Linked DNA regions of Homo sapiens. The protein of the gene in region 1 purifies or fractionates together with the protein of each later gene. This does not show direct contact. Each region holds a gene or a part of one and is shown on either strand. Other genes may lie near its edges.

Evidence for each region.
Region 2: the proteins of ASB17 (region 1) and RAB10 purify together in Homo sapiens (affinity purification with mass spectrometry, with the first as the bait; one large-scale study listed by BioGRID). This does not show direct contact.

The regions. Positions count from the first base shown.
Region 1 is NC_000001.11:75,930,174-75,933,934, forward strand, and holds the start of ASB17 (ankyrin repeat and SOCS box protein 17), read right to left. Parts: upstream 2,232-3,761; 5' UTR 2,119-2,231; coding exon 1,718-2,118; intron 1-1,717. UniProt on the Homo sapiens protein: May be a substrate-recognition component of a SCF-like ECS (Elongin-Cullin-SOCS-box protein) E3 ubiquitin-protein ligase complex which mediates the ubiquitination and subsequent proteasomal degradation of target proteins.
Region 2 is NC_000002.12:26,040,584-26,044,244, forward strand, and holds part of RAB10 (ras-related protein Rab-10), read left to right. Parts: intron 1-3,661. UniProt on the Homo sapiens protein: The small GTPases Rab are key regulators of intracellular membrane trafficking, from the formation of transport vesicles to their fusion with membranes.

The DNA of each region.
Region 1 (3,761 bases):
AATATTTAGCTATATATAACCAGTTGTATTTATTTAGTTATATAACTATTATATGACTAGTTATATTTATATATTTATATAACTAGTTATATTTATATTTAGTTATATATATAAAACATATATAACTATATATAACATGTATATATATAACTACATATAAATATAAATATATGTAAATATAAATATAAATATATATATATATATAACACTAGGAAAAACAAGGACCCCAAGGCAAAGGAACGGTTTACCTAAGGAAATAGTTAACTCACTACTTCTAGAATTGTTTAAGAAGAGACCAGTGAGCATCGACCAGTTGCTGTCCAGGGTAAAGGTCTGCTAATGAATTCTCAGGCTCCATACAAATATAAAATTCTATGATTCTGAGAGGTCTAAGTGATGTTGCGATCAGTAGAACTGGCCTGTAATGGGTTTTACCTTGTGGATGCATCTAAGTTGAAATTGATTAATTTTAAACCTGTCTTAAGACAGTTGTTAATGGCACCCTATCATGTTCCACTGTGTTTCTCTTTGTTTCATTTTCTGTCCAGCTTTCTCCTCTCTGCTTCCATTTTTAATTTTTAAAAATTTATTCTCTCTCCCTCTGTTTGCCTCAATTTTTCTTTCCCGTGGACCTTCCAGGGCTGTAGACAGGCACTATTTAGCCCAGCTAGTGACAGTCAGCTTTAGAAGATTTGCTGATCTCTGCTGTAGTTACAAATATAATGGTTACTTAAAACACAAAGTACCATTTGGTAGTTTTGTTTATTGTTGTTTCCAAACTACAGCTATCAGTTCATGTACTTTAGTAATCATTAAGTAATGAAATCCAGTGGTTCTCCGATACCATAGGATGCACAATCAAGAAAAAACTCTGCTTTAGGCAGAATCTAAATTGGTTTAGTCTTTAACTGATCTTGTCCATTTTGTTTTTCATTGCATACATGCATTTATATTGCACCTAGTACAGACTTGCATACATAGTAATGTGATTAATAAATATTTTGCTGAATGAATGAACACATGAATGTTTTATTCAGATGAATATCTAAAACGAAAGAATAAATTAAAGTTAGTGCAAACTAGGTAACTTTAAATTCTATATTATGGACTCTAAAAAGAGGATACATTGGAGATTTGATTTTCATAAGATCCTCAGTAGTATGCATTAGGTAGATTGACATGTGAACACTATAAAAATTTGGTTCTATTATCGATAGCATCAGGTACTTGACCTTCATTGTGCTCAAATTTGGAGAATTTGGAGTCTAATTTATAAATGTTTAACACACAAATAGGGAACTATTGTGTTTAATAAGTATTACTATGTGAAGATGTGTGCATGTTCCCAATTGTACTTTGAAAGTCAGCTTATAAACATATATAAATATAAAACCATAGGATTCGCAGAAATAGGAGATCATAGTATTACACAACATAGTGTCTTTGTTTAGTTAGAGAAACATGTTGTTTAGCACTAACATGTAAGCTGTGTAGAGCAGAATCACTAATGATTTATTGGTACATAATAATTTACATATAAATAAAAATGGAATACATAATAAAAGAGTGAAGGAGTGAACACGTGGTCAAGCAATTAGGTGAGAATTCCTTACTTCACATATAGCCACTATACATGTGAGTTTTAGAAAAAAGAAGCACTCTACTCTCGTAAAGATAAATTTTCTTGTTCTATAGTGAAAACATATGAAATTATTACCTCCATATCAGTGCCAGGTTACAACTTCTGTCTTGAACATAGTCTTTTGTCTTCTTGAGAAGCAATTCCACAAAGTCAGGATTACCTTTTCTGGCAAAAACCCAGTACAGAATTGTATTCACACATATTTCAGTGAAGTCGAGGTTAAAACTTACTTCAAAACGGTATCCTGATTTTTCCACAAATGCAATGTAATCTGTGAGTAGTGCGTCAAAACCATCCAAGTCCACATACCTCAGAATTTTTGCCAGTGATCTGTAAATCCTTGGTTCGTAACAGTGATATCCCCACTGACCCAAAAACTGTAGGGAGGGTCTTTTAACAATTTTGTCAAGGAGATTGCAGAATATATTGCTTCTTGGACAAGAAGTCTTACCACATAATTTAGTAGATTTACTCATTGTTACTTATAGCAGCACTGTAGAAATAAAATCAGAGGTAAGCATACTGTAATCCTCCAGTTACATATTTTGACAATGTGGCAGGCTTTACTCCACAAACAGAAGTGCCCTTTAAACTGTAACCAGAAAAAATAAATATTACCATAAAGTACTGGATGACATCACAATAGGTGGAGATTCCTCCACAATAGGTAGAGGTCACCAGCATAGGTCAGAGGGGATATTGTATGTAACTGGTGACATTTGAAAGAGACATATTGGACAGAAATGACATACGTGAAAGCTAAGATACAATATATTTAATTTTCTAAGAATTCAGTTCAAGGTAGTCTGCCTGGTTTCTCAAGTTCTGCATGTTTCTTCAGTAGACTAAATAATGGTAATAAATACATTGATTATCCTTTGTAGGCTATTATGTAAGCAGACAATGATTGCTAGAGTGAATAAATTCAAGTGTTGTTCTCATGTTCTGCATGAATACTGTATGCTCTCACTTAATCCTCATTGATTATTTCCCCTATCTTGTAGTTGAGGAAATTGAGGCTTACACAGATAATTTTTTTGTTGTTTGAGACAGGGTCTCACCCTGTCACCCAGGCTGGAGTGCAGTGGTACGATCATGGCTCACTGCGGCCTTGACCTCCTGGGCTCAAGCTTTCTCTCACCTCAACTTCCCAAACAACTGGGACTACAGGCATGCACCGCCATGCCTGGCTAATTTTTGTATTTTTTATAGAAACAGAGTTATGCCATGTTGGCCAGGCTGGTCTTGAACTCCCGAGCTCAAGTGATCTCCCTGCCTCAGCCTCCCAAAGTGCTAGGATTACAGGCTTGAGGCACTGTGCCTGACTGAAGCTTACATAGGTTAAGTAACCTGCCAATATATTCATTCCCAAAGAGAAAGAATGTCATACAATATTAACCAAAATTTAAAGACTTTGTTTTAGATTTTTGTTGTTGAGACAGTGTCTTACTCTTTTGCCTTGGCTGGAGTGCAATGGTGCGATCTCGGCTTACTACAACCTCCACCTCCCAGGTTCAAGCAATTCTCCTGCCTCAGCCTCCTGAGTAGCTGGGATTACAGGTGCACACCACCACGCCCGGATAATTTTTGTATTTTAGTAGAGACAGGGTTTCACCATGTTGGCCAGGCTGGCCTCGAACTCCTGACCTCATGATCCGCCTGCCTTGACCTCCCAAAGTGTTGAGATTTCAGGCGTGAGCCACTGCATCTGACCTTTTTTTAGAATTTTAAATTTTACAGAAATTATTCCTCTATAAACCAGGCAGAATGTATACAATTTGAACATTAAAGGTACTTCAAGCTTGATATGGTGTCCTTGCCCCACTACAATAAAGGGGAAAGATGTTATGGTTGTTTTTATCATTATTCTGTAGTTAATGTTTCAGCCACCTTTTTATACTATTCACAGAGTGATCAGTCTTAACAACCTTGGATGTATGTATTAGCGTTTTTAAAGGTAATTAAATATATTCTTTTTCCTTTGGCATATTTTTATTTAAATCATGTGAATGATGTCTCTTTAGTAAGAAAAAATTATTACTTTAGATTTACTATAATATACATCTACTAATATTGCATTTTATTTTGTAAACTCTAAACTGTCTTTTCCCAGCTGGAC
Region 2 (3,661 bases), on another chromosome or scaffold:
GGAGTTCAAAGGTGCAGTGAGCTCGGATCACACCACTGCACTCCAGCCTGGGTGACAGAGCGAGACCGTGTATGATAAAACAAAAACAGAAAACATCCAGAGGTTTGTATAGAAGTAGTTATCTTGCAGGTGTTCAGAAGGACCTGACTGCCAAAATAAGGCAGGCCCTCATTATTTCAGGTGCAGTCATTTAAGTTTCTTATTGGCTATGGTTTTTTGAAGAAATAATTTTTATAGATTTATAGGATGGTGTTCACAAAGACTACTGTATTTGAATTTTTCTATATATTTTCAATTCTCATACATCCGTATTAGAAATTATGTATTGTATTTATGGTCAGATTTATTGGAGACTGCTGCAAAAAACAAATTACTGGTATGGTACACTCAACCAATCTCAAAACGAATCCAAGGGCACCAGAATATAAGTTGCACAAAGGCAGAAATCTTTGTCTTTTTTTTTTTTCTCATGTGTGCTAAACACCTGGAAGGGTACCTGCATTTAATGGGTGCACCATAAATAATGAATGAAGGCAGGCAGGTAGGCAGACAGGTGGTACAATCAGGATCCCCTTAATATGAATTGGGGGTAGTTTATGTAAAATTTTTCCTTTTTACCTACTTTCTGATCATTATATGAAGTAGATTGGGATCAGACTTACCAATATTAGCTGTGGCCGGGCGCAGTGGCTCATGCCTGTAATCCCAGCACTTTGGGAGGCCAATGCAGGTGGATCACCAGAGGTCAGGAGTTTGAGACCAGCCTGGCCAACATGGTGAAACCCCGTCTCTACTAAAAATACAAAAATTAGCTAGGCATGGTGGTGTGTGCCTGTTGCCCCAGCTGCTTGGGAGGCTCTGAGGCAGGAGAATTGCTTAAACCCGGGAGGCGGAGGTTGCAGTGAGTTGAGCTCGTGCCACTGCACTCAAGCCTGGGTGACAAGAGTGAGACGCTGACTCAAAAAAAAAAAAAAAAAAAAAAAGAATGTTAGCTGTTTGGCTTAATAGGGCAAGACTGCTCTTAGAAATTGAAAGGTTGGGGCTGGGTTTGGTGGCTCACGCCTGTAATCCCAGCACTTTGGGAGACCGAGGCGGGCAGATCACCTAAGGTCAGAGTTCGAGACCAGCCTGGCCAACATGGTGAAACCCTGTCTCTACCAAAAATACAAAATTAGCTGGGCGTGGTGGCGCATGCCTGTAATCTCAGCTACTCTAGAGGCTGAGGCAGGAGAACCGCTTGAACCAGGGAGGCGGAGGTTGCGGTGAGCCGAGATCGTGCCATTGTAATCCAACCTGGGCAACAGGAGCAAAACTCTGTCTCAAAAAAAAAGAAAAGAAAAAGAGAAATTGAAAGGTTGTTTGAAAAATAGGCTTAAGAGAGTTACTGCTTTTGGATGAGAAGATTTCAGTGGTTGATTTGACCATAACCATCTTGGTAGTATGAGCTCAGGAATGCGTTACTTATTAGTGATGTGGGAATTACATGGATTTGTCCCCAAAGCACAAGCTTTTAGTGGGCTGCTTCTATACTGGATGTGCTACCTTTTGGTGTCATTAATCCTTTCTCCACCACAGGCTTACTCATTTTTTAACAGGGAATATTTTTCACTGGGAATTGGAGTCTCTCGGCTCCATGTAAGAAATCAAGTTGGTAAAGGCTCTTGTCCCTAAGAGAGGTATAATACATACATTTTGTTGTCAGGATGATTTTGCTAAGTTTTGGAAGAGTAGGTTGGTTCCACTAACCTGCATTTAAGAAATGATTGATTAGGCTGGGTGCTGTGGCTCACACCTGTATTTCCAACACTTTGGGAGGCTGAGGCAGGAGGATAGCTTGAGCTCAGGAGTTCGAGACCAGCCTGGGCAACTTAGCGAGACCCCATCTCTACAAAAAAAAGCTTTTAAATAAAAAATTAGCTGGGTGCGGTGGTGTACACCTGTAGTCCCAGCTACTCAGGAGGCTGAGATGGGAGGATCACTTGAGCCCAGGAGTTTGAAGCTGCAGTGAGCTATGATTGTACCATCTCACTCCAGCCTGGATGACAGAGTGAGATTCTGTCTTAAACAAAAAACCCCAAAAGACCATCCAGAGTGCTTGTCTCGGTAGCATATATACTAAAATTGGAAGGATATGGAGAAGATTAGTATGGTCCCTGCGCAAGGATGACACGCAAATTTGTGAATTGTTTCATAATTACTATTTAAAAAAAAAAAACCTCTGTAGGTATTTCTCCAAAGAAGCTAAGCAGATGCCCAATAAACATATGGAAAGATGTTCAGCATCACTAATAATTAGGGAAATGCAAATCAAAACCACAGTGAGATGTTACTTTGCGACCATTTAGGATAGTTATAACAACAACAACAAACGACAAAAGCAAGTGATGAGGTTGTAGAGAAATTGGAACCTTGGTGCATTGCTGGTGGGAATGTGAAATGGTGCAGCCACAGTGAGAAACAATAGGGTGGTTTCTCAAAAAATTAAAAATGAAATTACCATATGATCTAGTGATCTCACTTCGAGTTATATCCAGGATAATTTAAATCAAAGATTCAAACAGGGCCAGGCAAGGTGGCTTATGCCCGTAAATCCCAGCACTTTAGGAGGCCAGATTACTTGGGCTCAGGAGTTCAAGACCAGCCTGGGCAACATGGTGAGATCCTGTCTCTACCAAGAAACCCCCCAAAATTAGCTGTACATGTTGGCGCATGCCTGTAGTACCAGCTGCTTGGGAGGCTGAGGTGAGAGGATCACTTGAACCCGGGAAGCGGAGGTTGCAGTGAGCTGATGATCATGCCACTGTACTCCAGCCTGGATGACAGAGCAAGACCCTGTCTCAAAACAAACAACAACAAAAAAGACTCAAACAGCTATTTGTACACCAGCATTCATAGTAGCATTATGCACGATAGCTGAAAGGTGGAAACAACTCACATGTTCATCAGTGGATAAATGGATAAACAAAATGTGGTATACACATAGAATGGAATATTATTCAGCCTTAAAAGGGAGGGAAATTCTAACATGCTACCACATGGATACGCCTTGAAAATAGTTTACTAAGTAAAATGAGTTGGACACAAAAGGACAAATAATGTGTGAGGTACCTATAGTAGACAAAATTAGTGGAATAGTGGTTACTGGGGCCTGGGGGACAGAGTAATGGGGAGTTATTGCTTAATGATCACAGAGTTTTAGTTTGGAAGGATGAAAAAGTTCCAGAGAGGAATAGTGTTGATGGTTGTATAACAGTGTGAATTAATTTAATGCCAATGAATTGTACACTTAAAAATGTTTGAAATGCATGAAAAGACAAATACTATGTGATTTCATTTATATGAATATGAGGCTATCTAAAGTCAAATTCATAGAAACAGAAATAATGGTGATTACCAGGGGCTGGGGAAGAGGGAAATAGGAAGGTGTTTAATGAGTATAAAACAACGCATTACAGTTTTGCAGAATGAAAAGGCTCTGGAGATCTGTTGCACAATGGTGTGATACACTTAACACCTACTGAACTGTACACATTAAAAATGGTTAAGATGGCAAATTTAATGTTATGTTTTAGAAAATGGTTTAAATGGTAAATGTTTTAGATATATTTTCCCCACCGCTCAACAAAACCCAAAAAACTAACACTCGACCCAGTTCTCTAAA